3 separate regions of the Homo sapiens genome follow, and regions 1 and 3 are each linked to region 2. Evidence: fine-mapped expression QTL. A gene starts in region 2. Each other region holds a variant in brackets. All regions are shown on one strand. Distances are from middle to middle.

What was found.
Region 1: its variant is fine-mapped to the expression of LINC02384 in whole blood (INTERVAL, PIP above 0.99).
Region 3: its variant is fine-mapped to the expression of LINC02384 in whole blood (TOPMed, PIP above 0.99). The same link has a PIP of 0.9 or more in blood mononuclear cells.

What each region holds. Positions count from the first base shown.
Region 1 is chr12:68,418,778-68,429,716 of GRCh38, reverse strand. No RefSeq gene overlaps it. Among named protein-coding and RNA genes, the nearest start is that of LINC02384, 27 kb to the left of the region's middle. The variant A/G (reference allele first, on the strand shown) is at 6,197.
Region 2 is chr12:68,445,947-68,456,885 of GRCh38, reverse strand. It overlaps LINC02384 (long intergenic non-protein coding RNA 2384), which reads left to right and starts at 5,402. Exons shown (of 4, transcript NR_120458.1): 1 at 5,402-5,519. RefSeq lists enhancers at 5,014-5,153, 5,214-5,543 and a silencer at 9,323-9,617.
Region 3 is chr12:68,430,723-68,441,605 of GRCh38, reverse strand. LINC02384 (long intergenic non-protein coding RNA 2384) reads left to right here. Exons shown (of 4, transcript NR_120458.1): 3 at 8,235-8,322; 4 at 9,475-9,764. Among named protein-coding and RNA genes, the nearest start is that of LINC02384, 15 kb to the left of the region's middle. The variant T/C (reference allele first, on the strand shown) is at 6,613.

The DNA.
Region 1 (10,939 bases), 27 kb after region 2:
GTATTTCATCTGCATTTGGAGGTATTAAGAATCACTGTTTGATCTATTGTATTTATTGTCACACAGTTATACTTTGGGTTTTCTGCAAACCTGTAGAAAATATGCTGCTTAAAGATATTAAAGGGCCATTAGCATCCTACATCGTCAAAGCATTTAATTCTAAGACACCTCTTAAAGTTTAATAAGACAAAAGACTTGCTTTTTCTTAAATCTCTAGACTAGGGTGACCAGCTTGTCCTGGTTTGCTAAGTACTTTCCTGGTTTTAAAGCTGAAAGTCCCACATTCCTGGTATCCTTCCAGGCCTGGATAAATGGAGGTTAGTCACCCTATCCCTCCTTGTGTTGTTGGGAGACCTTATCAGGACTTCTTGAAACCAGAGCATACAATTGATTTGAGTCCAGCTTTAAGTTAAAGAATAATAAATCTCTACCATGGCAAAGAAACTAAAGTCAATAAGTAGTAAAAGTACACTATGGAATTGCCGTGTGCAGAGTTCTTTGAAGTACTACTCTTTGGAACCAGCCTGGGATTCAGACATTTGTGCCTTGCTGCTTTTTGATCCAAGGAATGCAGGGTCAAGTTATCAGAAACATTTGAAGTTGTTTAGAGAATTGTGAAGAATTTCACTAGGCTAAACAAATTATACATCTTGGGATTGATTGCAAAGAGGCTTAGGATGATAGTGTCTGCATCAAAGATGCAGTGATGCCTTTGATAGAATGAATCACTGCTACTAAACCATCTTAAATGAGAACCAGCTTTTCCCTCCAAACCAATCGGATTGATCTGTGCATTGAAATATGTTCCTGTCACGATCCTTTTACTGCATTGGAGACAAGAATGCTGCAAAAAGAAGTGCCAGAAGCCATGCTTGCTGGGATTGAGAATATCTTATTTACGGTCTGAGCGCATTATGGTTTGACCACTCCTCTATCGTACATGCTAATTCCTTGAACATTACTAAAGGATCCTCTGAACTTCTCAGTCTGCTTTTCCAATCCTTTTTTTTTTGTTATTGTGTTCTGTGTTCTCTTATGTGATGGTCAGTGGGGTGTGGCCACAAGAGGCCACACATCAGAGGCTCAGGAAAACAAAGTTTATTATCCCCAGAGGGTCTGGAAACAGGAGGCATCTTTACTGGGGTTTTCATGGGGAAGACAGGGCAGAGGAAACTGGAATTGGCTAGTTTGAATAATTCCTGTAAGCTTTGGGCTATAGGAGTAGTCTTTAGTTTCCTGGTATGCAGCCTGGGATGATTAAGGCAGAGGAATATTGCCTCCTGGTAGAGGAGGTATGGCTCTGGACTGGTTAGTTTTCATAACAAAGGCATTCTCCATGAGCCCTCTGCTATCTCTAAGAACTGGCTAACCCAAAAGGGGCAGTCTCTCCTGAGCTAGATTTTTAAGATGTTAAAACATCATAACAGGCCAGGCACGGTGGCTCATACCTGTAATCCCAGCTTTTTGGGAGGCGAAGGCGGGCGGATCCCATGAGGTCAGGAGTTCCAGACCAGCCTGGTCAGCACGGTAAAACCCCATCTCTACTAAAAATACAAAAATTAGCTGGGTGTGGTGCCGAGTGCCTGTAATCCTAGTTACCTGGGAGGCTGAGGCAGGAGAATCGCTTGAACCCAGGAGGCAGAGGTTGCAGTGAGCCTAGATTGTGCCACTGCACCCCAGCCTGGGTGACAGAGCAATACTCTGTCTCAAATAAATAAATAAATAAATAAAACATCATAACATATAGAAAAACATTACAAACAATACAAATTGACATTTCATTGATTCCCAGAGAGTGAAGGCAGCATGGCATAGCAGAAAGAGGGAGGTCTGAAGTGAAATCGTATGGGTTTAAATCTTGGCTTTGCCTGATATGAACTGTAAAGTGTAGGCAAGTCTGTTGACTTCTTTAGGTCTCAGTTTATCATCTGCAAAATAGGCTTAACAATTCTTGTCATGATTGCTGGGAGGACTAGATAGGATGATATATGTGAAAGTTCTTAGTAGGTACAGAAATTATACTAAAAAAGACAAACAAATCCACATGCTATGATGCAGTGTGGACTATCTTTGGTCACCTACATGTCAAAGGTGGTCTTAAACTGCTCTGGTTTGGTAAATGTTGGAGTAGACTAGAAGTCAGAGAGTACGGAATCCACCCTTATTTGCTCTCAGGCTTTGGTTTACAATGAGCTCAAGTGTAGGGATTGTGTCAAATGATTCCTGGAATCCTTTACAATTTGTAAAATTCTATGAATTCGTGAAGTCTGCAAAATGTGAATCCGAGGTGTATGTATTGTAGAGCAACTATTAGACCATTTATCACATTATACATATATATATAAAATTATTATTTTTTTGAGACGGAGTCTCGCTCTTTCGCCCAGGCTGGAGTGCAATGGTGTGATCTCCGCTCACTGCAACCTCCACCTCCTGGCTTCAAGCCATTCTCCTGCCTTAGCCTCCCGAGTAGCTGGGATTACAGGCGCCTGCCACCATGCTGGGCTAATTTTTGTATTTTTAATAAAGATGGGGTTTCACCATGTTGGTCAGGCTGGTCTTGAACTCCTGACCTCAAGCAATCCACCCACCTCGGCCTCCCAAAGTGCTGGGATTACAGGCGTGAGCTACCATGCTCGGCCCTATCACATTATATTTTACAGAAGCCATCATCCCATACCTTTGAGTCCAGCCCCAGAAAGAGCAGTCCCTTGCATACCATCCAGCATGACCTTGGGCATCCTTTCCCCACTCCCCACCATAGCTGTTTCGGCTAGAGTTGGAAACCTGTCCACGGTAGGCCCCTTGGAGTCTCCTGCTGGACACTTGGGATTAGAATGGAGACAGTCAAGTTAACAGACAGTAATGCTGGACCTGGACGGTCACTAGCACGTGTTGGAAGCTGAGGGCACCAGCCAGTGTAAGCCACTGTGGATGGTGTAATAGGAGAGCAAAGGAAGGCAATCTGGGAATGGGTTGGATGGGGAGGGAGAAAAGGTGGGGGAAAGAGAGAAATGTAAAATGAGGGAAGCAGAGGAAGAGATAACATGGCAATGAAGAAAGTAACATCTTTGGTCATTTTCTGTTCCAATCACCCACAGCAGGCCTGTCAGTTCTCTCTTACCTTCTGTTCTCTTTTACCTAAGTAGATTTTAGTGGCTTTTCTATTCTTGATCTCCAACCATGCCCTAAGACATATGGTAACACAGACTGAGGATTCTCTGACGGCAGGGCTTTGTCTCATTCCTTTTTGGAACAAGCACAAAGTAGATGCTCAATGAATTTATATTAAAATGACATGAAAATCATATGTTTGTATCTGAAGTGTCACTGATGGCATTTATATGAAAAAGGTTAATTAAAATAGATAATTATGTTTCAACAGGCATTTCCCTGGATCTTCTCATTTGGTCTACAAGTATTTTTTCTTTTCTTTTCTTTTCTTTTTTTTAGAGATAGGGTCTTGTTCTGTCATACAGGCTGGAATGCAGTGGCATGATCATAGCTCAGGCTGGAATGCAGTGACGTGATCATAGCTCACTGCTGCCTCAACCTTCTGGGCTCAAGTGATCCTCCCACTTCAGCCTCTCCAGTAGCTGGGACTACAGGCTTGTGCCACTATACCCAGCTAATTTTTCAAAATTTTTTTTGTAGAGATGGCGGGGGTGTCTCTCTATGTTGCCCAGGCTGATCTTGAACTCTTGACCTCAAGGGATTCTCCCGCCTCAGCCTCCCAAAGTGCTGGATTTACGAATGTGAGCCACCACATCTGGCACACAAGTATTTTTGAGTACTGTCTTCACTGTGTTTTCGGGAGCCACACAGGATCTAGCTCACTGTAGGGTTTATTTTAAAATGTCTGTTGAACGGAATGGCTCAGGATTGTTTTACATACTGTAGAGATATAAAAAGAAACATAATTTATGGTTGCTCTACATAAGCAGTATCCAGTATAGTTGGGAAGACACATGGAAAAAAAAATCAAACATAGTGATTTGAAGTGGATTTCAAATAGCTGGAAGAATGGAGGTTCAGTGAGGTCTCATGTATTTAGAGAAGTTTTGTGGAAAATCAGGAAGTTGAATTACACCTTGAGAGCTGGGTGGGATTTGGCATGGTAGAGATAGGTAGAAGACATGGTAGAGATGGTAGAGACAGGAAGAAGACAAAATGCTTAGCAAAAGCTTGGGGGGCAGTAATGAGAGTTTTGCTGTAAACACAACTTAGAATTTAATGATTCACATGAAGAAACCTGATACACCGTGTCCAAGTACGGGAGGCAATGGAGTGCCATGGTTAAGGGTGTTGACGATGGAGGTAGACTTTCTGGATTCAAATCTCAGCTCCTCCTTCCCCCCCCGCCCCCGCAACTGCCTTTGTGATGTTGGGCAATTTACTTTTCTGTGCCTTAGTTTCCTCATCTGTAAAGTTGGGGATAATAATAGTACCCACTTCATAGGGATGTTGTACAATTGGAGGGGATGCTGTTGGTAAAGTTCTTAGATTAGTGTCTGGAACTTAGTAAGCATTTAATCAATGTTAACCGTTAATTGTTTTTGTAATGGAACTCTGGTTCTATGACCCAATTAAAAGAACTATCCAGTTAATTTTGAATTGGGTATAGAATAGCAGATCTCTTGGTCATTAGGTAAGCCAGTTACTATCTGAATTGGTGCTGGACTACTGGTAGGAACTGGTTTATGGTCAGAAGAACATTGAGTGTGTAGAACTCAGTGGAAGGCTTTGAGAGCCAGGGAGAGGAATTTGGACTTGGGGACGATGGGCAAGGCACAGTCATATTTCCTGAGCAGGGGAATGATGTGATGAAGGTGAGAACAGGAGAGCGGGGGCAGCGGGCAGTCCCGTGAGCACCAGTGAGGGAGTGGGGGTGCTAGTGCAATAATTCAGGGGTAAGGTGATGAAGGCCAGGGACAGGACTGTGGCTGTGAGAGGGAAATGCAGTGGGAAACTGGAGAGACTTCAAAGGGAAGGTGTCCACTTCTCACCTCCTCTACTGCTGCCACCCTGGTCCAGGCGACTGTCACTTCTTGTGTGGATTACTGCAATGTTCCCCTAACCCTTCTGCCTCTGGCCTTGCCCGGAGGTCTAATCTCTTCACAGGTACCGCTTTGCAGTCTGGCAGCTTTCCTATTGCACTCCGAGGACAAGCTGAACGCCTCGCTCGGATCTACGAGGCCTGTGTGGGAATCCCGCTTCCACTGGCTTCATTCCCTACTAGGCATCCACCCCACTCCACGAGGCTGCCATCCCTGACTTCCTCCAACACATCAGGCCTTCCTCAGGGAACTTGCCTATGCCTGTTCTTCTTCTTCTTTTTTTATACGGAGTCTCGCTGTCTCCAGGCTGGAGTGCAGTGGTGTGATCTCGGCTCACTGCAAGCTCCGCCTCCTGGGTTCACGCCATTCTCCTGCCTCAGCCTCCCGAGTAGCTGGGACTACAGGCACCTGCCACCACGCCCAGCTAATTTTTTGTATTTTTAGTAGAGACGGGGTTTCACCGTGTTAGCCAGGATGGTCTCGATCTCCTGACCTCATGATCCGCCCGCCTCGGCCTCCCAAGCCTGTTCTTCTTAAATATCTGCCTAGGCTAAGTGTGGCGGCTCACGCCTGTAATCGCAGCACTTTGGGAGGCCCAAGTGGGTGGATCACTTGAGGCCAGGAATTCGAGACCAGCCTGGCAAACATGGCGAAACCCTGTCTCTATTAAGGATACAAAAATTAATCAGGTGTGGTGGTGCATGCCTGTAGCTCCAGCTACTCGGGAGGCTGAGGCACGAAAATTGTTTGAACCCAGGAGGCAGAGGTTTCAATGGGCAGAGACCGTGCCACTGCACTCCAGCCTGGGTGTCAGAGCGAGACTCTGTCTCAAATAAATAAATAAATAAATAAATAAATATCTGCCTAGATAATTCCTTTACCTCTTTTCTCCTTTAAGTGTCTGCTTGAATGTCATCTTATTAGTGACCCTTAGCCACCGTTTTAAAGTAGCAGCCCTTCTCCACCTGGGCACTCCCTGTTCCCCTTACCCTGTCTGGTTTTCTCTTTGTAGCCCTTATCACTACTTGACCTAGGAGCTCTTTATTTGTTTATTGTCAGATTTCTGCACTGGGATGTGAGTTCTATGAGGACAGATGTGTTTGACTGTCTTGCTTACGGATGTATCCCCAGGAACTAGA[A/G]CAGTGCCTGGCATACAGTAGGTGCTCAATAAATGTGTTGAATAAATACATAAATAAGAAGTCAGATTTGTTTTGTTAGGCACAATGCCCAGTGGCCCTTCAGAAGCTGCCTTATTTATGCTTCCAGTGACGCTGTTCAAGGAATGTATTGTTCTCATTGTTTTACAAATGACAGCACTGAGGCAGAGACCAGAGGTGAACAGGGGCACAGAGCTGGTAAGTGATGCAGTCAGGAGTTATGTCCAGTTCCTTTGACCTTGGTGTCGCCATTCTGCATGGCTAAGATGAGATGGGGAGGGAGGCGTCAACAGGATGCCGGGGCTTCCAGGTTCTGGAAGATGGAAGAGCGTCAGAAGCACTGACAGAAATGCAAATGCTGGGAAGAAGGCCAGAGCTTCAGAAAAAGAAGTAGCTGAGGGAGGAAATGTTGGATCAAGTAAATATTCAGGAAGAAAATCCTGCTTTTAAGGAGAATGACTAAATAATATATTGTCCAAGACCCCTGTGAGAGTGAAAGTGCGCACTATTTTTTTTTTTTTTTTTTTTGAGACAAGGTCTTGCTTTGTCACCCAGGCTGGAGTGCAGTGGCACAATCTCGGCTCACTGCAACTTCCACCTCCCAGGTTCAAGCGATTTTCTTGCCTCAGCCTCTCAAGTAGATGGGATCACAGGTGTGCGCAATCACACCTGGCTATTTTTTGTATTTTTAGTAGAGATGGGGTTTCACCATGTTGGTCAGGCTGGTCTCGAACTCCTGACTTCAGGTGATCCACCTGCCTCGGCCTCCCAAAGTACTGGGATTACAGGCATGAGCCACCGTGCCCGGCTGCACTATTAATAATAAGGTACAACAACAGGCATACATGGAGGTTGTCCCAGCAAAGGGGGATAAGCGGTCCCTTTGGATTCAAGTGATTGGAACATCCATGAAAGTCATGTCTAGAGATTTGGGTATCTCCCTTCTAGAGATACACAGGGAAGACACAAGGTTAGGGTTCTTATCATCAGGGAGAAGGGGGAAGGGAACATGAAGACCAGCTTTGAGACCCTACCTGAGATAAGTGGGAGGAGAAGAAAGAGCCTATGGAAGACAGAACCAGAAGGGAGAAGAGGTACAGAGGTCAGGAGGAGAGGGGACAGGAAGGAGGGGGAGCGGGGAAGGCCACATTTTTCACGCAATTTAAAAGTAGGTCAGTGGGAAGCTGGTAACAAAAACAAGACTAGAGAATCACTTGTTTTTTGATTTTGTAACAAAATCTTCATCTGTTTCAACACAGTGCTAAAAGGCATTTAATTAAAGCAGCTTTGAATTCATTTTGACTTGAGAACTGTTTTTCTGCGGCTCCTATATAAACCTTGAGACTCTTTGGGATGCTTTCTTTTTTTTTTTTTGAGACAGAGTCCTTGCTCAGTCACCTCGGCTGGAGTGCAGTGGCACGATCTCGACTCACTGCAACCTCCACTTCCTGGGTTCAAGCAATTCTCCTGCCTCAGCCTCCCAAGTAGCTGGGACTACAGGTGTGCGCTACCATGCCTGGCTAATTTTTGTATTTTTAGTAGAGAGAGGGTTTTGCTATGTTGACCACGCTGGTCTAGAACTCCTGGCCTCAAGTAATCCACCCACCTCAGCCTCCCAAAGTGCTGGGATTACAGGTGTGAGCCACCACTTCCGGCCTGGGGTGCTTTTAAAGGCTGGATCAGGAATCGGGTTTTGGTGTCCCAGCCTGAAGTTTAAAAAAGTTTTTTTTTAAATTTTTTTAATTTTAAGGAATGTTATTTGTTTCTGGACAATTTATTTATTTATTTATTTTTTACTTTAAGTTCTGGGATACATGTGCAGAGTGTGCAGGTTTGTTACATAGGTATATATGTGCCATGGTGGTTTGCTGCACCTATTAACCCATCATCTAGGTTTTAAGCCCCTCATGCATTAGGTATTTGTCCTAATGCCTTCACTTCCCTTGCCCACCACCTCCTGACAGGCCCTGGTGTGTGATGTTCCCCTCGCTGTGTCCAGGTGTTCTCACTGTTCAACTCCCACTTATGAGCAAGAACATGCCGTGTTTGGTTTTCTGTTCCTGTGTTAGTTTGCTGAGAGTGATCAGCCTGAAGTTTTTTCCTGTACCTTTGCTTGGCCCAAGGCAATAAGAGGTCCTGCATTCAGAGTGGCATTGACACAGATCAAATCTGGGCCCCAGGTAGAAGATATAGAAGCAAAGGGGATACTTCTGTGATTTCTGTGGGGTCAGAAAGGTTAAAAATTGAGTTTCTGAGCCAGCATGAGTAATAGTGTCTAAAATCTGGTTTTCCATGGTAAAGTAGAAATTTTACATTTCATGAACAATTCAAGCAGATATTTTCCTACCTTGGCTTCTTCCTTCAATAGAGGGAGGGAGATGGGGCGGGGGAAGCAAGCAAGCCAACAGAACCCTAGTTCAAAACATAATTGAAATGATAGCATAAACAACAATGCTGGTGTCTACAAGTAACGTGGTTTACCAGCTCTGGTGGTCTGTCTCATAATTGGGAAAGAGAGAGAGCTAGGTTGCTGAGCACAACATTTTTGTCTATCCAGACATGATTAGTCCACTTGGCTCTAGCCAGAAGGTGCCTTTTCCAGGTAGTGACGATGTGCGCTTAGCACATGGCTTAGTGTTCTCAGTTTATTAGAGAGTAAAGTCTCAGGACTGAGGCCATGGAAACAGAATCACTCTCTCGCATTCTCTGAATGGGAGTATGAGTAATTGTGTCGGGTAGCAGCAACCGGCAGAGGACAAGCAGCAGGCCTTCCCTGCAGTTTCTTTTTTATCACAGCAGAAGTCTTACTGGGCAGAAATCACTGTGGCACACAACGCCTGGGCACCAAAGGGAATAAAATCTCACAGGAATTCAAAGAGAACAAAGTCATTAACACTGAGCCAAAGCCTGCTGGCGTACATCGCAGAAATCAAATGGATATAGAGGGCTCCTGAGAGGAGAAAATGCATAACTCTAGGCTACCCTGCACAAGATGCTAATATCAGTACCTAAATAGTGGTTTTCACGGAAGCAGTTTTTCTGTAGCTGGTGTTCCTGCCACATTGGAGGAAAGTGTGTCAAGGCTGACCTTGAGCAGAATGAGAAAGTAGGAGTTTGTTTTGGCACACCACACCGCTCTGTCTTTCTCAACTCCACCCTAAAGACTGAGCCTTCTTCAACAGTCCCATGCAAGGTTTTGTACTCAAAATGAGAATTTATTGGCAGTATATGGTACGGCACCAACTATGCTCAATATGCTCCTCCTTTCTCTTTTGATCACCTCCCTCCTTCCTCCTCTCCTCTTGTCCCATCTGTTTTATTTCCGTGGCTTTTCTTTTCCCTTTTCCCTTCTTTTTGACCATTCTTCTTTTCTTTTCCAGAAATATGAAACAGGGAGAGAGAGAAAGGATGGGAGGGGGTGCGTAGAGTGGGGCTGGGGGAGACAGAGAGGGGAGTCAGGGAGGGAGGGTTATCTGTTACCTGTAGATTTTAAATCTGTAATGTTTGTTGGGGTTTCTTTGTTTTGTTGGTGTTTATTTTCGCCTCATAGGGTTGTTGGGAGGATTAAATGTGGAGTGTTTAGCTCAGTGCCTGGCATGCAATAAGATCTCAGTAAACACTATTTATTAGTAATGAAAAGTTTACCCTTGGAATAAACATCTTCAGATCTAGGCCATCTATTTGGGGAATGGGGGATTTCTTCTCTCCTCTTAAAAAGTTCCTTTTTCTCAAGTTCTTGTTTTATTTTTATCTATTATTATTATGATTTTTAGAGGCAGGGTCTCACTCTGTTGCCTAGGCTGGAATGTGATGGCGTGATCAAAGCTCACCACACCTTCAAACTCCTGGGCACAAGCAACCCTCCTGTCTCAGCCTCTCCAGTAGCTGGGACTATGGATGCATGCCACCATGCCCAGCTAATTAAAAAAATTTTTTTTTTTTTTTTAGAAATGGGGTCTTGCTGTGTTGGCCAGGCTGGTCTTGAACTCCTGGCCTCAAGCAACCCATCAGCCTCGGCCTCCCAAAGTGCTAGGATTACAGGTGCAAGCCACTGCACCTGGCTGCTTTTTCTGAAATTCTTTTAGGATAATTACATGTATACATGCACATAGTTATATGCACATGAATGTACATACACACACACAGACATTTTCTTTCTCTGTTTTACAGAGGGAGCTCAATGCAGAAAATAAAGCCAAGGCTTCAACTTTGGTCGAGTAAAGTAGCTTTCAAAAAATTTTAACCTCCACAACTGCCACTTATACGTACCTCTATATAAAACAACACACAAATTTTCAATAAACAATATTTATCTTCACTGCTGGCACTATTGTGTTCAGGTCTGTTCCATTCTCTTTCATTTAAAAAAAATGCTGGCCAGGTGTGGTGGCTCACGCCTGTAATCCCAGCACTTTGGGAGGCTGAGGCGGGTGGATCACAAGGTCAGGAGTTCAAGACCAGCCTGAGCAACGTGGTGAAACTCCCTCTCTACTAAAAATACAAAAAATACAAAAGTGCAGTGGTGTGATCTCAGCTCACTGATCACTCATCTTCGCCTCCCCAGTTCAAGCAATTCTCCTGCCTTAGCCTCCTGAGTAGCTGGGATTACAGGCATGTGCCACCACGCCCGGCTAATTTTATATTTTTAGTAGAGACGGGGTTTCTCCATGTTGGTCAGGCTGGTCTCGAACTCCTGACCTCAGGTGATCCACCTTCCTCAGCCTT
Region 2 (10,939 bases):
ACAGAACAGTAATGAAGGCGGAAGAGACAGAAAGGGAGGCAGCTTGACAAGGAAACACCTGGCTCCCCCAACCCTTCATAAGTTCACACATTTATAGGTTGGTGGGGGAAAAACTTATCTAAACTGAAAATTAGACAAACTATTTATTACACACAGTACACTAACAAAATACGTAAATACAACAACAAAAGGTAAAGTGGATTATGAGTAAAAGAATAACTGTAGGAAGTAATCTAACCTAGGGGGTCAGAGGAGGTAGCCAGTAGGTATAGTCTTGCTTAGTGTAAAACAAACAAAACTCCCACAAAAGCAAAAGCATGGCTTTGGTTTGATAAACAGCATAATTCAGATATCAAATATTCCTAGTTAAGTGTGTGGTTCTAGGCCTTTAAAAGACTGAATCATGCGGCAGGTGGTGGTTATTTTCACCATGAAGTTGGTAGAACAAATCAAAGTTGACAGGATATCAAAAATCCTGATTGGCTGCAGTTACTGAGTGACTGCTGGGAGAAACGTGGTTTTAAGAAAGGCTGAGATTGGTATGTAGGCAAAGAGCTGGGAGAGAACTCCAGGTCTAGGAGATAGTTTGGAAGGAGTAAAAAGCAAACAAGAGGTAAACAGAATGATGTGATGGGTGGAAAAGCACAGGAGCCCGTGGGGAAGACTGGGCTTTAAGGGCACAGACAATGAAACCAGCTAGAAGGCAGGAAGTGCACCCTGGGGTGGCCCTCCGGTACAGGAACCTGACCTGGACAGGAAGTGAAGGGTATCATCTGAGGAGCAGGAAGGGGAGATGTGAGGGAAATAAGTGTCCATTGCATAAACCTTGCTAGAGCTTTTATCCTGTTACAGGGTTGTAGGCAGCTTGGAGCTTCTCTAACAAAATAATCTGGCCTGCTGGGAGGTATTTGTGAGGGACAAGAAGGGAGACAAGAAAGGTTAGAGTGTGGGCAATTACCATGGGGCTCTGTCTTGTCTTGGCTCCCTTTTGGATGACATAAGATCTTTGTCTTGGATCCAAACAGGATGAAAATAAGTCTCATTTCCTCCCCTCTCCCAACCCCCTTCCTCCCATGATGAAATGAACTATATGGGACTCTTGGTTGACATAAATCTTTGTGCTTTAATAAAAACTAAAGGTTCAGGAGTGGGAAGTGGTTAAGAAGTTGTTTGCTGGGGATTATATCAATAATTCATCCTGTTTAGACTGAAGAATGACAATGATAAAGAAGTTAAAACAAAAAACCAACAAACAAACCCACTAGGGTAAATGGGGCAGGGGAAACTGAGAAGTGAAAATGAAGACAGAATTGAACATATGTGAATATAAACTTTTTTTTTTAACCAGCTGTAAACAAAGTGGTATGAGGAAAGATGGGAAGAGATATAAAAATAAACAGCATTAAGTTAAAGGGGGTAATTATAGGAGCCAAAATGAGAGGTGAGTGTCGCAAAGGATCCAGCTAACTTTAGAGACTTGAGAAGTTTCTTCAAACATTTCCTTTCAGGACACTGTGGGGCTTTCAATCTTTCAGGATTTAACAAGACCCTAAATGTATATGCCTTAAATTCACACAAACACACACTTTTTTTGTTTGTTTGTTTTTTCCTGTTGGGGGAGAAGAGAGAGTAGGAGATGTATTCTTTGTTGTCATTTGGAAAACAGTTTCCGGTACATTTTATTTGCTTTTAAAAGCCCTGGAGAATAGTCAGCAAATAGAAATTGGTTTGCAGAAATAACATGGCTTCCTGGAACTTAGGGGGAAGGAAATGGGTGGTTTCTTTAATTACTATAGTATTTGTTTAGTATAGTGTGTCTTACAACTAAAGATAGAATTCCGGCTAATGTCCAGGAGGGAAGGTGAATTTGGATATTAATGAATTCGGAAGCTTCATACAGTTGTGTTGAATTTACCAGGTTAAGTAAGACAATAATGCTCTTTGTTTTCCCTATCCTGGCCAGATTAGAGTGGACTGAAGTTTGTTTTCAGATATCTAATCAGTTTAAATTCAAGTGCATTATTATTTACATATGAAGAGCTAATGACTTTAATGTAAGCAAGTAAGCTTATTTACAACAAAGAAGTGACTGGGTGACAAGAGGAGTGTCGATATTGCCTTAATTAGTTGATTTGCCAATTATTCTTTTCTGCTGGGTGTGATAGTACTTTTCCTAATGAGCAGCAGAAACAAGAATGCTCCAGCAAAAGCGATTGTAACACAGTAGTAGCAATAGCTTCTTGGCCATTTTAGGTCCATTAGTGCTGAAGTTGTCGACTTTATACAATTTTTCAGACTTCATAAGATTGAAGAACCAAGTATATTCCTGTAGGTTTATCCTATTTATTTATCAGCTATGTGACTTAGCTCAAGTCTGAGAAGCTTAAAAGGCATTTACTGAAAGTGAAAATAAATTAGATGGCAGGTTTGAACTTAAAGAAGAATTAAAAATATGTCCCACAGCAGTGCCATGCATTTATTTCTTCAGGCTTCTTAAAGACATTGATTGGTAATAGATGCATCCGCGCTCATTGGTGTGGGAAGCCCTGGGGGAATGGCTAGAAGACTCCTTCATTTTCTTTTGTGTAGGTTTGCATTTCTTCTGTATTTGAAAGTCGTGATACTGAAGAAATTCAAAAATCCCCAGGAGATTCCATGTCCACATAACAAATGTAAACTTATCTTTACTTTAATGTGTTCACTTCTCATAACTCCTTGACTGGAACCCTTCACTTCATCCAGTCTGAGAGTCTGTAAGTTTCTGCCGCAGGCATGCACATTCCTGACACCACGCTTTTGCTTGGCTGTGCCTCCTGCCCAGAATGCTGTCTATTCTCTTACGCACATCCTCTCTGTATCCCATTTTTGTCCTATTTCTTCCTGATTCAGAGAGGGTGGTGATTGGTGGATATGGCTAACATTTATTAAGTATATCTCATGCTTTACATACTGTGGTGGCAATTTATGTGCATTGTTTAATGATACCCCCGTTTTACAGGTAGGGAAAGAGAGGCTTACAGAATGTCACTGGGCTCACACTAGTAAGTGGCACAAAGCCAGAATATAAATCTAGGTCTTTCTGGTCATTTCTGGACTTAATCTTATAGTGTCTTGAATTGTTTCTTAGCTATTGCATCTACTAAGGCCTTATTTCTCTAACCAGATTGTCAGTGGCTAGAGGCAAGGAGCTTACTTATCTTTTAGTCTGCATAGAGCAGGCCCTCAATAGTGATAGCCTTCTATTGAAGTGAAAAATAACATGTAAAACGTTAAAGGATTTTTATTATTTGGTTAAACACTGGAAGAAAGAAACAAATCACAGGAAACTAATTTCTCAAAATTACTGCATGAACACAAGACACTGTGGTTCTTAGTGTGATCAGCACCACTCACATGGGTGTCTGGAAATGTGGGGGCAGTCCTTAGGTTGTCAGGATTCTGAAGGTATCATGCAGTTATAGTGTGTGGTAGACAGGGACGTCAAACACCTTGCAGAAAGTAGGACCGTTCTGCACCCTGCAGGGGCCCAATAAGGGAAGCAGCACCTGGAAAACATGGACCCAGATGCCAGATTGAGTTCCAACTTGCCTCCACCTTTTACTAACTGAGTAAATCTTTCTCATGTTAACTATGTGCCCTCTCCACTCCTGGCACATGGTTAGTGCCCAAAAGCATCAGCTCATAATTACTATCCTCTAGAAAAGTGTCCCCCATGGCAAGACATGATCTTTGCGGAGTGAGAGAACTTACTAGACTAACAGTAACAGTGTAAAAATCAAGGTGTAATGAACATACAGAGTGGAATAATAGATATTGGAAACTCCAAAAGATAAGAGGGTGGGGTGGGAGTGGGGATGAGGGATGAGAAATTACCTGTTGGGTGCAATGTACAGTATTTGGGTGATGGGTACACAAAGAGCCCAGACTTCACCACTACACAATATATCCATGTAACAAAACTGTACTTGTATTCCCTAAGTCTAAAAAAAGAAACCAAAACTAAAAAAAAAAAAAAAAAAAAGAGAATCAAGGTGTGTCCCAAAACAGTGCTTCTCAAACCTTAATGTGCTTACACATCTCCTAGAAATCTTGTTAAAATGCAGATTCTGATTCGAGGGGGGGCTAGGATGGGACCAGAGTGTCTGCATTTCTGATAAGCTCATGATCCCAGAGCTGCTGTTGGGTACCAAAGTTCTAAAGTACCTTGAGGGAGAAGCCAACTTAATAAGTGAAATAATGAAGCATTTATTACATATCTACTATATAACTTAAATGACAAAAATAGAGTAATGGAGGTTGGATATAAGGAGTATAGAATTTGATTTCTTCACAGAAGGAGCTTCCATCTGCTTTGCCACTTTTATCTGAGAGACAAAGAGAGAGAGCACACAGATTTTCCATAGATAACTATATTTTTCAAGGGAAAAAGGCAGAGAGGTATTTCTTATGTGTGTTTCCTCACACAAAAAGGCCATTTTGGGTCCCCAAATAATTTTAGAGGAGGTATTATAACTAAATAAAGGAAAAACTTGGCAGCCATTCTTGGATGCAGGGTGTAAGCCTTGCATATCTCAGAACTAGTACGAATGGTGTGCATTTGGGTGTTTCTCTGTGTGTGCAGTTTTACATGTCTGTGTATGAGCTGGAAAGTGTATTGGGCCATTGCCAGGGAATTGATTTCTTAAACATCACTAGAGAAGAGGGATATTTTCCCTGATAAAGATTAAAGCGTTAAGTTAAGGGGCAGGAATTCCTAAGGCAGCCTTGACTAGGAACTTTGCATATTACAGGCAGTCGATGTTATTTGAACGTATTCATTGAGAGAAGAGACTACTCATTATCCACTTAAAATACTTCCTGGCTGCAGCATGGTGTTGTACGGAAGCCAAAGCAATTGGCTTTGCATTTGGCCAGCTGATTTAGCAAGAAATTTCGCAAATGATGCAGTCCTTACAGATGGTGCTGTTGGGTTTTTTAGAATGTTTTAAAACACTGATGGATTTGACCATGAACTGAATTTCCAGTCTCTTAGATTCACCTCCAGCCACCCCTTGACGATCTCCAAGGCAACTGGAGACAAGGAGCAGACCTTTTCTGCAAACTTATGATGAATGATTTCCTTTAAAAACTACTCGCATAATAAAAATGTTTTGGTGTAAACTTGGCCAAGGGGAACTCTTGAAACTTTCAGTTTCTTTGCCTAACTCTGAGTTGCTTGAGTCACATTTTTGCATGGTTCTTGATTGACTTTCTGGTGCTCTGCCTGGAGGTCTTTGCTTATCTGTGAGTTGCCTGAGTCACATTTTTACATGGTTCTGGTGCTCTGCCTGCAGGTCAAGAAGGAGCCAGTATCTCCAGGAGGAGTGAGAGAGTGCTCTGCCAGTGTGAAGTGTGAATCCTTGAGAGGCTGTGGCAAGGGTCCATGCCTGAATGTGTAGAACAAGAACAGCTGGAGGCTGTGGCTTTCTCCAGGAAGAGGTTTCTAAATCTGCCTCTTAGAAGATATCAGAAAGTTAAAGGTACTGTACCATCTTCACAGGCCGAATTCTTACTCAGATCTTTACAACAGGGACTGGTCCTGATCTTTGCTGTTGATTGCTTTCTTGTTTTCTTGGTTTCTATTTGAATCGTCACCTTTTATTCGTCTTCCTTGGTGCCTTTTGGTTGTGCTTATTTCGGCTTTATGTAAGCAGCATCTCTGGATGCATAAATGAGGCAGATAAAATTCCCCAGGGTGACTGATCTGCCCTTCATCTATTTTGAGCACTGCAGAGAAGTTACCATGGCCCACAGCATAACTCAATCACTGTAAGCCAGTGAGCACATTCTGAGTTTTTTTTTTTTTAAATAACCTTTCCTGGAGGCATTTGGCATAAGCTAAGCTTAAAGGCACATGATTCAATCATTGATTATTCAAGACATGTCATACTTAGGCTTTTCTAATAACCATATTGTCACTGTCAACTAGATATTGAGCTCTGGTTTCTAATTTTGCACTGGAAGCTGTACAAAGTCTATTGTGTTCTGTGTGTGTGTGTGTGTGGCTCTGGCAATGCAGAAATGGCAACAAGGAAGTATCTAGCACCCATGAAAAGACTGAAGAACACCAATTTGCTTTCTCTCAGTCAAGCCATCTTTCTTAAGACAACCCTTGTCCTGTAGCTTGAACTGTTTAATCCTTGTATATCTTCCATCCCTTCCACCCTTAGGGAACCTCCATAAGGTGAGGACAATGTGTCTTTTTTACCACCTGCTATTGTCTAAATGTTAGTGTCCCCCTCAAATTCATATGTTGGAACTAATACCCAATGTGATAGTATGAAGAGGTGAGTCCTTTTGGGAAGTGATTAAGTCATGGATCAGTGCCTGTGTTAGTCAGGGTTCTCTAGAGGGACAGAACTAATAGGATATATATATATAAAACAAACTCATATATATATATATATATATATATATATATATATATGAGTTTGTTAAGGATATGTAATAGGATATATATATATATATAAAAAACACATTCATATATATATATAAAACACATTCATATATATATATATAAAACACATTCATATATATATATATATATATATATATATATATATATATATGAGTTTGTTAAGTAGTATTAACTTATACGATCATGAGGTCCCATACCAGGCTGTCTGCAAGCTGAGGAACGAGGAAGCCAGTCCAAGTGCCAAAGCTGAAGAACTTGGAATTCAATGTTCAAAGGCAGGAAACATCCAGCAGTGGAGAAAGATTTAGGCTGGGAGGCTAGGTCAGTCTAGCCTTTTCACATTTTTCTGCCTGCTTTATATTCTGGCCACACTGGCAGCTGATTAGATGGTGCCCACCCAGATTAAGGGTGGGTCTACCTTTCCCAGCCCACTGACTCAAATGTTAATCTCCTTTGGCAACACCCTCACAGACACACCCAGGATTAATCCTTTGCATCCTTCAATCCAATCAAATTGACACTCAGTATTAACCATCACAGTGCCCTCTTAAAAGAGGTGCCTTGCCCTTACTGCCATTTGGTAATATAACAAGAAGGCACCAGTTTTGAAGCATAGAGCAAGTCCAGACACCAAGTCTGCTGTTACCTTGATCCTAGACTTTCCACTCTCCAGAACTGTAAGCAATACATTTCTGTTATTTATAAATTACCCATTTAAGGTATTTTGTTATAGTAGCCTGAACAGACTAAGATATCACCATACCTCTGTAGTTTAGCACAGGGCTTAAGCTTAAGGCAGCATTTATTCATTGGTTCATTGATTTATCAGTTCATTTAACAAGCGTTTATTGGTAAACACCAACATTCCAGCTTGTCTTGGAATGAAGTTTCCCCATCTTTGATAGGAATACATGCTTATCACTTCCATGTTTGCTCTGAGAGCTCCCCTATACCTCCTCTACTTCTTGGAAGCATGCTCCTCTAAGGTTGTTAGCTCTGCCCTCCTATCCAGATTTGTTCTTTTCCTTTGCATCTGCAGAATCAGCACTATTTCTATAACAAAGTGGTTCCCCTTACTTCTGAATATCACTGGTTTCTTTTATTAATTTCTTTCATTCAAGGTTAAAGAGGTAGTTATATGATGTGACCTGTGATGGTTTCGTGGTGTGTCTGCTTTGGCTTGGATAAATCACATCCCCCAGAGCTCCTTTTCTAGTATGTTTCTGACTAGGGTGGTCTACAAGGGAGAGTCTCTTGCAAAAATTGGAAGATGGAAGTGAGGCAGCAGCTATTTTGTAGCACGCACGTACCTTCTCCTAATTATTGAAACACTAATCTAGGTGCTGCTGTGAAGGGATTTTGCAGCTGTAAAGTCCCTAATCAGTTGACTTTAAATTAGTCAAAAGAGATATTATTCTATGTGACTTAATCAGTTAAAAGCTTTTTAAAAGAGAGTCTAGACCAGGGGTGTCTAAGGGAGAGAGTACAGTCATGGGTTCTTAGTTTCTGTTTCTCATTGGGCCAGAAAAGCCCCTTCCTCATCCCTCTTTTCTGCTTATTACTAGAGACGGAAACTAAAAACTATGGCTTCAGGTTGCTAAAAGCCTAAAACAAAAACAAACAGAACAACAACTACAAAATAAAGTGGTTTGGATAAGCTTGATCTATACTCTCCCTGAGGTCGGAGATTCCAAGTAGTAGAGCAGAAGGAAAGTTGTAGAACTTTTCTACGTTTTGGGACAAAAACACTCATGTTGTTGCTGATCTGCTGATTTGCCTTGTTGGTGTGAAGCAGCAGCTAGTTTATAATTCCTTTACTTTTCAGATGTATCTACTTCCAATTTCACTGACTCTTGGGTTAAGTGTATGTGTACAGCTCCATGACAAAGAGCCCTGACTTCTGCATGACATCCTCATCACTGAGCTCATCCTTGTGGTAGTCTAGCCTGCTTATGGCTTTCCCTTTCTGATTACCTGCCTTGTGGATGTCAGGCCTGCTTAGCCAGCTCCTACAGTTGTGTAAGATAATTCTTTGTAAAAAATAAATGGATATATTAAAAAACAAAAACAAACAAACAAAAATTTTCTGCTGGTTCTGTTTTTCATGTCAAACCCTGACTGATACATAAACTGAAGAAGCAATTGTTGCCTTATATATCATTCAGTTGGACGGTTTGGAACCCAGATGTCCACCAGCATTCATTCAATTATTCATAACTGTACCATAGTTGACAATATAGCAATAAACAAAGCAGATATGGACCCTGCCCTTGGAGAGTAGATTCTAGCAGGAAACAGATGTTATTTAATATTTATAGGATAATACATTAGCATAGAGTTGTCAGAAGGTGTAACTAGGAGACCCTGCCTGAACTTAGGTGTCAGAGAAGAGAAGTAAGGGCCTGGAAGAAAGAGTGAGGGCCTGACAACAAATGAAAGTAATTCAGGAGGTTCTGCAAAGTTGTCGTTCATGGCAGTAGAAGGGATGAGGCTTGGGAGATAAACTGTAGAGGGCTATGCAAGCCAAGATAAGGATGTCTGACTTTACCCTAAGGGACAAATACTTTTATTTAAAAACCTTCATGTTTTGGAATCCTATATAGTTATTTTATAATGTCACAATGTGGTTATATTTTGAACCTTTGAAGATCCCATGGTGTTAGTGTGTTTGATCAGCCATTCCTGCCCCTGTCCTCTTATTTTTTTGCACATTTTTTACAATCCTCTTGTGTAACCCATGATGCCCTTTCTATTGTGCAAGCATCAGTTGGCTACTGTCATACTAGTCATAGTATTTTTAACTCGTTCTCCTGCCTTATGCTTTGAATTCTCACCCATTGAAAGGAAAAGAAAACAAAACCTGCACTTTTCAAATTAATTTACCTGACAGTTTCCTCTTGTCAACGTTTACTTTCTGCTCTATTTAGATGTACAGAAAAGCTTCCGGAGGGTGGGCATTCCCCAGCCTCATTATTCCTGTTCTTCTGACACCACCTGCGGTGTGGGAGCTTAGCCCTTCCTGAGGCTGTTAACCCTTTCTTACTGCTGAGCCCCCTGATGCTCTAAGGATTTTCTTAATGAAGTAATTGATTTACTTACTGAAGTAAACGCCATCCTTGAAAACTAGAGCAGTAAATACCATCAATTCTATGGACTAGAGAGAGGAAACACTGAAATGGTGCTAGAAGGTGCATGACAAAACCAGTCACAAATCTGAATGAGGTTGAACAGTGTGAACCTAGGGTCAGTATTTTTTTTTTTTTTTTTTTTTTTTTTTTAGACAGGGTCTTACTGGGCAGGAGTGCAGTGGTGCAATCCTAGCTCACTGCGTGTAGCCTTTAAGTCCTGGGCTCAAGCACTCCTCCCGCATAGCTGGAATTACAGACAAGGGCCACTGGGCCTGGCCAGTTTTTGCTTTTTTTTTTTTTTTTTTTTTTTCTCTTTCATTATTTTCAGGTTTCCCTGTAGCTGTCTTTGGGAAAGCAGTGAAGTATAGAGGTTAAGCCAAATTGTAAATTGTAAAGCCAAACTGATTTGGGTTGGGAGTCAAGTTCTACTATAGCCTATTTCTATACTTGTAACATGGGAGTAATATTACTACATGTAATAGGTAAAAAACGTGACATGTGCAAAGTAACTAGCTTAGTGCTAGGCACATAGACGGGGCTCAGTCAATTTGGCATATTAAGCATTATGATCTTTATTTTTCATCTCCAAATATTTATTCTGAAAACTGGAACATGCTGATAAGGTAAGCATGTGACACTGGAAATGCAAAATGAAAATTTACATTCTCTAAGCCACAAAGAGCTACATTCACACAGCACTGGGGGAGGTGGGCAGGAAGAGGATAACCTACTCCCAGCCAAGGGAGGCTTCTGACAACCTTCTCCTAGCAGCAAGGACTCATGTGTGAGGATCTCAGCACCTGAGCACTCACCAGTCCTAAAATCCTGGAGTCTTAGACCCCCAAATCTTAGAATCATCTCTTAACAAAATTTTATTTTTAAATTGACACATAATTGCACATATTTATAAGGTACATAGTGACGTTTTGATACATACAATGTTGAGTGATCAGATCAGGGTAATTAGCACATCCATCATCTCAAACATTTATTATTTCTTTGTGTTGGAAACAGTCAATATCCTCTCTTCTTGCTGTTTGAAAAAACATAATATTGTTAACTATAGTCATCCTACAGTGTCACAGAACACTAGAATTTATTCTTCCTATCTACCTGTAATTTTGTATTCTTTAACAAATCTTTCTCTATCCCCCTGTTCTGACTATTCTTCCCAGCCTCTGGTAACCTCTGTTCCACTTTTTACTTCTCTGAGATCATCATTTTTTAGCTTCCACACTTAAGTAAGAACACGTGGTGTTTCTGTCTGTTCCTGGCTTATTTCACTTAACAGAATGTCTGCCAGTTTCATCCATGTTGCCATGAAAGACAGGATTTCATTATTTGTAATGGGGGG
Region 3 (10,883 bases), 15 kb after region 2:
TGCTTTATCTTCATCTATTCATATGATCATGTGATTTTTGTACTTCATCTGTTGATGTGAGGTAATACTTGTATTGATTTGTATATGTTGAACCAGGCTTGCATCCCTGGTATGAATCTCACTTGATTGTGGCATATAATCTTTTAGATGTGTTGTTGGATTCAGTTTGCTAGATGTTGTTGAGGATTTTTGCATCTGTGTTCATGAAGGATATTGGTCTGTGGTTTCCTTTTTTTGTTGTGTCCTTTATCTGTTTTAGGTCTCAGCGTTATTAAGCATTATGATCTTGAACAAGGTGACTTCTCCAGAGGCAAAGGGGGATTTAACTGCCATTTACTCAGCAGTTTGCTCAATAGTTTATCTTTCCCCTTTTTACTCATTTTCATACAATGGGAGTAAGAAGCCTTGTTTGCTTTAAGAGCAGTACCTGATTTCTCAAGTTCCAAATCAGGAATCATGATAGAAAGCCAGGTTCATGAGTTGTGAGGATCCTCGTAGAACTTGCCCAGATTATTTTAAAAGTGCATTGGGCCGGGCACGGTGGCTCACGCTTGTAATCCCAGCACTTTGGGAGACTGAGGCTGGCAGATCACTTGAGGTTAGGAGTTTGAGACCAGCATGGCCAACATTGTGAATCCCTGTCTCTACTAAAAATACAAAAATTAACCAGGTATGGTGGAACACACCTGTAATCTCAGCTACTTGGGAGGTTGAGGCAGGAGAATTGCTTGAATCTGGGAGGTGGAGGTTGCAGTGAGCTGAGATCGTGCCACTGCACTCCAGCCTGGGAGACAGAGTGAGACTTTGTCTCAAAAAAAAAAATAAAAAGTGCATTGGAATGAAACATTTTCAGAAATAGATAGTGGTAATGGCTTACAATATTGAAATTGTATAATTAATGCCACTGAATTGTACACTTAAAAATGGTTAAAATGGTAAGTTTTATGTCATCTATATTTTACCATGATTAAAAAAATACTAAAAGACCAAACCAAAAAAAATAAAAAAAAAAAAACCCAAAAACAAAAAAGCAAATTGGAGACAGGCCTGCTGGCTGTCTGAATAATCCCCTCCGCCCACTAGCAAATGTAGGTTAGCTCAGTAATAATGTGACCCACTTAAGAACTGTATGGGGACTATTGTTGCTAACTGATTCCAGAAGGTGAGTTAGAAAAGCCCATATCTAACCTCCTCACTTTACAGAAGTGAGGTCGGAGACCCTGCAAGTGTGACTTGCTGAAGACTGTGTAGCACCCGAATACTCTGGGAACGAGCTCACCAATGCTGCACAACACCATGCTGACTCACTGAGGCCACTGGAACATTCCAGGCCTTCTGAGCACTGAAATGAGGGCTCTTTTTGTCCATTCTTACTCCAGGTGCCTAATCCTTGTCGCTAAGCATCCAGTTGCTCAGAGTTCTAAAATTGTACAAAGCAGGACCAAGGCATTAGGTTTCAGTCACAGCCAAGCAAGTGTGGACAGTGAGTAATGTCTGAAGATTCCATAGCTTGATCACAGCTACTTTTGTCCTGCTGTCTGAACTCCATTGTCAATTCTCAAACAGGCCACACTCTCATGATAGGGGCCATTCATATGCTGTTCCTTCTACCTTGAATTCCCTTCTCTACTTTGATATTTCCTATTCTTCAGGTTTCAGGTGAAACATAGCTTTGTTTAGAAAGCTTTCCTATCCTCCCAGCCTATGTTAGCTCAGCCTATTGTGTAATTTCTTAGTAACCTATACTTCTTTGTAGTCTTCATCATACTGGTAATTATTTGTATTATGTCTGAGTTCCACACGTGAGGGCAGGATCTTGGTCTGCCCTGTCCGCCACTGTTTCCCAAGAACCTAGCATAGGGTCTGTCTGGCACATTTGTGTTCATTAAAGAAAAAAAATAAATTAACCCTGTCTTCTTATGGAAGAATGAAGATAATGATATAGCCTTACTTGTATTAACAGGCATGTGTGGCTGAAGGAAGTAGGGTAGACACTCCCTTTAATCTGTAGGCATTAGTTGATACTCCAAAGAAATATGCAAATGAGCAGGGTGGAGGGGCTGAGTGCGACTGCTCACATTTGCATTGTATGCATGTGAGAGTAAACAGTAAATCAATAGCAGAGGGGATATAGGTTGGATATAAGGCAATGTTTTCTGGTATGATATTAAAGATTGTTAAAAATGGGTCACATAACAGAGGAAGGTTGTGGAAACACCTTCCCTAGCGGCTTCAGAAAACAGGCCAGAGTTCCATTTTAGCCGGTTATTTTAGGCCTACTCCAGGCAGCAGGGTAGACTAGACATCCTCTTAGGGTCCAATCGTTCCGTTCCTCTGACCCATAATAAATAAAGCTATAGATGCCGTTGTTGCCAATACATACACAAATGCAAAATGCTTCTACACAGTCTTGTGGCTGTAAATGTTGCTAGTTCATCTTCTACTTAGTGTTCTGAATTCACCTTTTGTTTAGAAAATTACCTCAGTCTTTAAGCACGGCAATCTCTTTCTCTAAAGGATTTATTCTATATTTCAAAGCAAGAACTGCAATGCATACTAATTTAACGTTTGTATTGACACTTACCTTAAAATGTGGAGAATACAAGCTAGGAAAAAGGATTTAAAAAATAGCCTGCTAGTCCGACTAAGTTCCAGCATACAAACAGAGTGATCTGGACATGTTGTGTGTCATAATCCCAGTGAGGAGGCTGGGACACATTTTCTTTCTCTGCCTTTAAAGTGAAGGAAGGGAATGGTCTTGAATATGCAAATGAATCTAATTTAATTAACTTTTACGACCACAGCTCCTTTGAGATAATCATGGGAGCCAATTCGATTTCCTTAAAATTCAGCCATTTCCCTAAAGCCTCCATGAGACACCCTTGTCTTTTCCAAGAAAAAAACAAAAACAAAAGCAAAATGTGAAAAGATCTAATCAGAAACAATGAAAAAGAGTAAGTTATCTGCTGCAGTTCTTCTATTTGGTCTCACCAGAAGCTGCTCACACAGTCATTTACTTCAGTTTGTCACTCCTGAGTCTGGCGCTGCCAGCCGCAGAGTGAAATCATTTCAGGTCAGTCATGTAACTGCTGACCCAGAGTTTATCCTAAACTGGGGCTATGAAAGGTAAAGGTAATGATATTTCATGCTTCTGAGCAAAAACTCAAGCCTCGTGAGGCTGAGGGAAGAATTGCCTTGACCTCAGGCCAGAGATGAAGACGAATTTATGCCACTTCTTCCTTTGCCATAATATTCTTTCCTTGTCCTCCCCCTGATTACAAATATAATACATATTTATTGGCCAGGTGCAGTGGCTCATGTCTGTAATCCCAGCATTTTGGGAGGCCAAGGCAGGCAGATTGCCTGAGGCCAGGAGTTCGAGACCAGCCTGACAAACATGGTGAAACCCCATATTTACTAAAAATACAAAAATTGGCTGGATCTGATGGTACGCCTGTAATCCCAGCTACTTGGGAGGCTAGGGCAGGAGAATCACTTGCACCTGGGAAGTGGAGGCTGCAGTGAGCCAAGATCGTGCCACTGCAGTCCAGCCTGGGCAACACAGCAAGACTCTGTCTAAAAAACAAAAAACAAAAAGCACTCCATATTTATTGTGAAAAATAAAAAAGAGAACAGAATGACTAAAAGAAGCTGCTCAGATCTTGGAAGAGTTTGGAAGGCTCTTTCCCAATTTTGATTCCTTCTTTTCCCCTTAATAAGCAGACTTTTAGAGGACTTTGTGGGTGGTGGTTGTGGTGGTAGTGGAAGACGGGGGTGCTAAGTTTGTGAAGTGGGGATGTTACATTCAAGTTCTTTTTCTTTTTTTTTTCCTTAAAAATTTTTTTTTATTGTGGTAAAATACTCATAACATTTACCATTGTAATCATTTTTAAGTGTGCAGTTCTGTGGCATTAATTACATTTACATTGCTGTTACCCATTGCTGTCATCCCCCTCCAGAAATTTTTCATTTTTCCCAACTGAAACTCTGTGCTCATTAACGATAACTGTCCAGCTCTTGGCTACCACTATTCTACTTTCTGTCTCTATGAATTTGACTATTCCAGGTACCTCACATCAGTGGAATCATACAGTATCTTTTTGTGATTTGCTTATTTCAGTTAGCTTAATGTCCTCCAGTTTCATCCATGTTGTAGCATGTATCATGTCAAAATCTCCTTCCTTTTTAAGGGTGAGTAATATTTCATTGTACATATATATCACATTTGCTTTTCCATTCATTTGTCAATTGACACTTGGGCTGCTTCCACCTTTTCGCTGTTGTGAATAGTGCTGCTATGAACACGGGTATACAAATATCTCCTTGAGACCCTGCTTTCAATTATTTTGAGTATACACTCAGAACCTTCCTTTTCTTTTAAACCTATATTCCACACCACTCACCTCTCTTGTTTCTAACACTATGCAATTACATAGCTGCCCATGGTTTCTAAATCCTGGCCCCTGAATCATTGTTCATGGTTGAAAAGTATGTGGTGGTTCCACCCATTATCCGATCCACCTGAAAGTGCCTTGAGACACGTTCGGCAATGTGCAATTGGGTTTCTGGGAGCTATGCTACCTGCTAGTTCTAGAAACATTAAATGTCACATGACTTAAATATTGCAATTAATTTTAGCATGACCAGAGGCAATATTTCTACTTCTTCACATAGGCGAGCTATGTCTAAAACAAATATCTTCTGAAGAGTAGGTCACAGTGCTGTGCATTACATGATTATATAATTGTGCAGGCTACTAATTGGAATGTAGAGTTAAAGTTACTGTAGGAGGTTTTTCAACTGAGTAGATTAAAGAACTCAAAGTTTATATTTCCTTTAGTTAGATTTTTAAAATAATAAAGTACTTAAATTCTAACAAAAGATACACAATTATAAAATAATTAGAAAGAAAAAAGATGATGTGATAAACAGACCACTTCTGTGCTTATAAGACAAAAGGAGAAAGAAAGGTAATAAAAAACAATTAAAACCAAAGTTATTTTCCCACTGATAATTTTATCTGTCTTTCTTTTCAAGTCCTTTAGTCTCAAAATTATTCACTCTTCCATGTCCTAGTCCAGGATGAATATTCTGTGCCTGAATTATTGCAATTTCAACAGCTAAAATCTATTGAACACTTAATTCCATGCCAAACACTGTTAGCCTAAAGCATGTATCAGCTTACTTTAACCCTTGTATCAACATTCTGAAGTCAGTTTTATCACTCGGGGCAACTGAATATCTAATATTCATTCTCCTCTCTTCTTGCTTGCCCACAGAGTGCAATTTTGCTTGGAGTATCAATGTATTCAATTAAATACTCATGTTCCCAGTCTCCATCACTGCTAAGAGGTCCGGTGATCCAGTTCTAGCAAATGGGATGTAAGCAGAAGTCTGCTGGGGGCTTCTGGGAAGCTTTTTTCTTTCCTGATAAAATGAGACACACATAGCTAGATTAAAGCTCTTGACGTGCCCCTGCTTCTTTCTGTTTTAAGTCTATGACCTAAGACAGAAATGTTATGGCTGGAGCTATAGCAGCCACCTTAGAAACACAAGGCAATGAGCCAACTTGCTAAGAAAGGCAGAGTTGAAAGCTAGAGAGAACCTGGAATCCTGGTGGCATTGCTGAGCAGTTGAATCATTCCCAGCAACTGCCTACCTCTCTACCTTCAGTTATAGGGGAAAAATAAACTATTTATTTAAGCTATGAGTAGACGGGTGTTTAGTTACTTGCAGCTGTAAGCCTTCCTAATCCCATGTTTCAGTTAAGGAAATAAAAGCCTAAGTAACTTACTAAAATATATATGATCCTTCAGTGGTGATATGGTGATTTGAACTTATATTATCTGACCTAGAGTCTAAGCTTAGTCTCTTAGACATGGTTCTATGTCACATCCCCCTTGTGCTATATTGCAAGGTCTACTTATGAGTTTTTCAGGAAATAAACTTGATCTTGAGCCTCCCTCTTACTTCTTCTTCTCACAGATGCCAGTGTGATACATCTAAAGCCAGATCTGACCTTCTCACTTTCTTGCTTAAAACCATCAACAATATTTCTTTCTGTAGAGCTGGGATGTAACCTCAACTGTCTTGAGAGCCAGGTAGATAAAATAATTGATAGAGGCAAGTAGATCATAAGAAAATCAATTTTGTTGGTGTATTAGTTAGCTACTGCTGCGTAACAAATTGCCCCCAAAACTTAGCAGCTTAAAACAATAAATGCTCATTTCTTATATGGTTTCTGAGGGTCAGGAATCTGGGAGCAGCTTAACTGAATGGTTCTGGCTCAGGTCTTTCATGAGTTTGCAGTCAAGATGTTGATGGGGGCTTCAATCATTTGACTACTAGAATGGAGCTGGAAGTTCTGCTTCAAAAAGACTCACTCCCATGGTGATTGCTGGAAGCTTCAGTTTGTCACCATGTGGGCCTCTCCTCACAACATGTCAGCTGTTTTCTTCCAGAGCCAAGTAATCTAAGAAAGGCAGAATGACAGCTAGCCTGGGAAATGGAATAACATCACTTCTGTCACATTCCATTGGCCAAACATATCAAACTTGATACAGCATGAGAGGGGACTATACAAGAATGTGGATACCAGGAAATGAGGATCAG[T/C]GGGGACCAGCTTGGAGGCTGACAACAACAGGTAGATATTGGACAAAAGGGTAATATTTGCTATTTAGTTTCAGCCAATTGTTCCACTACGTGGAATACAGGTCTTATGTTACTGGATTTTCCCATTTCTCAAATAAAGTTAGATATATGAGTTTCTGAGTTATATCCCATGGTAGTAAATGCTGACTCAGAATTGTAAAAAATCCTGTGTAGGTCAAATAAAATACAAATGCAGTTCAGATATGGCCTGTGAGTTGCCATTTTGCAACCTCTGTGGCCCATAGCTTGGAAAACATATGTAGGTCCAATTCCAATCTGTGATACTGCCTGAAGTGATATTTTCAGTAGGATTTTGAAGACAAGTCCAGGCCTAGCCAGGAATGTACCATGGTAATTTAATAATATCTTCCATGGATAAAGGAGGGGAGAGTGATGACATATGTGCCTCAGATTGACAGAGACGGCTATATAATTCATTACCCAAACTAGGATACTTTTGAGAGTAAAGGGAGGTGCTATATTAATTATGCTGACATAGTGACCATAAATTAGGACTGACTCAGGCAAACCAGGATGTGTGGTCACCACCTGCACTGCCCTTAGTGAAACCTTCCCACTTCTGAACCCCGCTGCCCACACTCCTGCTGTTCCCCCGCTCATCCTATCTTCTCTTCCCCACTCATCTGTTTCCTCCTGGACTTCAACTTCTTCAAGTTCCAGTGGAAGTATCACTTTTTTTCCTGTTGTCTTCACCTCCTCCCCTCCTTTTCAGGTGAATCACTCTTTTACCAGAGTTTTGTAGTATTTTATACATATCTTTAATGCAGCATTTCTGACAGCAACCTATGCACAGGGGCCAGTGGTTACTCATTTAGGATTCTCAGTACCTATCTCAGCATCTGGCTTAAAGTAGGTGCTTGATGATAATTTATTGGAATTTTATTTTGAATCTCACCTCCCCTCTTTTTCTCTAATACCCTCTGCAGGAGATGATAATGAATAGTGAAAAATGCCAAGCAGACAATAAGCAGAAGGAACAGAGGAAATCCACAAACTGGATAATTGTTTCTTGAGTAACTGACCATCAATCTAGATAGTGGTTGCAGTAATTTCAAATTCTTCTCTTCCTTTTCACTTCAGGTGAATGAAACCTGTTTTCACCGAGAATGAGCTTCTGTCTTGATAGTAAGAATCGCTACTATCGCCCATAACGTATAGACTAAATTCTCAGTGTATGTATGTGTTTTATAAAAGCTATCCTCTAGGAAGTTCATAACTAAGCAGTGAAAATCAATCTCAGGCATACACAGGACACGTAGGAAGATTTATTCTCTCATGTACGCATCTAACATTTAGTAATACTTGTGCATTGTCTATAAACCTCAGGGGGGAAAATAGAAACTGCTGGATAGCAATGCTCTCTATAAATGCCCATGAGTGAAATTAAACTGGAAGATGTTAAAGGGAAAGCTCCGTGGGACTGAGGTGTGTTTTTGTTAGAGATGGGTAGAGTGAATGGTAGGACGCCATTATAATCCAACAAATTATTATTAATTGCAATCCTAATGTCAGAGAGGTGGGGTGGAGCAAAGGATAACCACGTGCTACCTTTTCTTTGGTAGGCTTTCATTTGGTCTCTTTTCGAATCAGAAGACCCAGAAAACTTGGATCCACTTCTGGCTCTCATCCCTCTGGGCAGTGTGATTTGGAGTAAGTCATAACTTTTCTCTGTGCTATCTTCCTGTTTAGGAAGGGGCTACTAGTAGCACCAATTTCACAAGGTTATATGAATAAGGTATGTGAAAAGACTTTGTAGATTGGGGTGAAGTCTACAAATGGTAGTTAGGACTATTCTCAGGCTGATGTTCAGGCAGCGTGTTGGAGAGAGAGTGGGAGGGAGGAACAGAATGGAGAACCATACTTAAGCCGCCCCCAGGCCTCCTCTGAAACCCTCCCATGAAAGCAGGTTAATAATACTACCCAATAAAGCAGGAACACTTAGAAATTAGTCTTGAACAAGATTAAGTTTGCCAAGGAGGGCTGGTCCTGACATCACATGCTTTAAACCTGTGGTTGGCAGCCAATTGGTTGCTCTATTATTACCTGCTCTGGAGAGGGTGAGTCTACAGTGGAATGCTCTTTCCTTGGTTCAAGCTGTTTCTGCTGAGTCCCATAGAGTTGATTATAGTTCTTATACTCTGTAACTGGCTGTTTCATTCTTGACTCACCTCCAGACTCATAAATATCCCACAGAAAACACAGAGGCTTTAAAAGTTGCCTATCTTTTAACCTTGTGCTGTAATATGTTTTGTAGAATTGCCAAGACATACAGTATTTTTCCTGCCTTTCCAATACCTATTCAGGAGCAAAAACCATGATAAACTCCCTTTGCATCTTTTGTAAGAGAGCTAGACAAACGCCGGAGAGTTTCTCTGCAGTTGTGTGACCTTGGGTAGTTTCTTCAACTACAGAAAGAGAGGTAATAATAACTAATGTGGAGGCTGTTGTGAGCATGAGGAATAATTTAAGGAAGAGCACCTGGTACATGGCAAATGTCCCATAAACATAATTGCTGTTGTTATTAATAATAACGTGAAAAGCATTCAGAACAAAACATTTGAAATGAGTCCCGGAAAGATTAATTTATACTTAATAGTCAAGAGACTATCTCTCAATATTTTCTATGTGCTGATTTAGAAGAAAGTCCCTGCTCTAGCTGGAGAGACAAATGTCACACACAGAAATTTGAATAATGCAATAGATGGAGGACATTTCAATATATTAAAAAACTATTAAAGAAGATAACCCAAGATGGACCGAGTGTACCTACAACGATTTTGTTGTTGTTTTTTTGTTTTTCAGTTGAGCAGATGCTCCGGCTGCCACTCCATCATATATTGGAAACAGCATTACTTTATAGTAAATCATGACCACGGTGTATGGCAATGAAGTTGCATCTGAAGCAGCCGGCACCCTATGTGCTAGCTGGCTTTTAGACCAGGAGACTGTGAATCTGTGGTCAGGATCTCTTTAGGGCTGCTAAATATATACTACCCACTATCACTCGCTGGAGCTGCAGACCCTAGTTTTAGAGTTTCACTTCTTAAAGACCTTCATCCTTATTAAAATGGTAATATCCTTACTGTCATCAATCACTGACACATTGGTATGAGTGAGTTTGAGTCTGGTTTGAAGAGTAGGTTTACTGGAGGAGGAGGCTCACAGGGAAGCTGGGAGGGAACCCACAGCTACTCTGCAGAGAAGGAGAGAGGGAGGTGAGGTGTGGAGGCAAGGGGAAGAGAGGGTGGCTATACTAACAGTCTCCTGGCTAGAGAGGAGGATTGGACCATTTTGCATTCTTTTTTTTTTTTTGAGACAGAGTTTCACTCTGTCGACCAGGTTGAAGTGCAGTGGCACAATCTTGGCTCACTGCAACTTACATCTCCCCTGTGCAAGTGATTCTAGAGCCTCAGCCTCCTGAGTAGCTGGGATTATAGGTGTGTGCCACCATGCCTGACTAATTTTTGTGTTTTTAGTAGAGACGGGGTCTTGCCATATTGCCCAGGCTGGTTTTGAACTCCTGGCCTTAAGTGATCCACCCACTTCAGCCTCCCAAAGTGCTGGGATTACAGGTGTGAGCCACTGAGCCTGGGCTATTTTGCATTCTTAAAGTAGCTTTATCGTTCATGCCTCTTCTCCTCTATGCTAGCACTGGTTATACTTACAAAGATGGAGCATGATTTTCTTCCTTATTCTTCTCTTTGTTCTAGGAACCAGAAAGAACAGGTGTTAATCTTATTAGCAAGGAAAGGAGGCCTCAGCAATAGCGAGAAACCGAACTTATTTGTGAGGCCTTGCATTTTGATGTGAATTGTTTCCAGGGATTTAAAAATATTCAGTAAAACACAAAAAAAGTAATGAAAATTTTTTAATAGCCTGAGGTGAGTATAGTGTAGTTCTTCTGGTGGGAAAATTATATAACGTTAAATCATCCTTCTTCATGAAGATATATGTATTCATATATGAAACTGAGGTTTCATAGGTTGTTGTGAATGGTTCAAAGAGCTATGGATAGGCCGGGCACAGTGGCTCATGCCTGTAATCCCAGCACTTTGGGAGGCTGAGTTGGGGGGGATCACCTGAGGTCAGGAGTTTGTGACCAGCCTGGCTAATGTGACGAAACCCTGTCTCTACTAAAAATACAAAAATTAGCCGGGCATGGTGGTACACACATCTGTAATCCCAGCTACTCGAGAAGCTGAGGTAGGAGA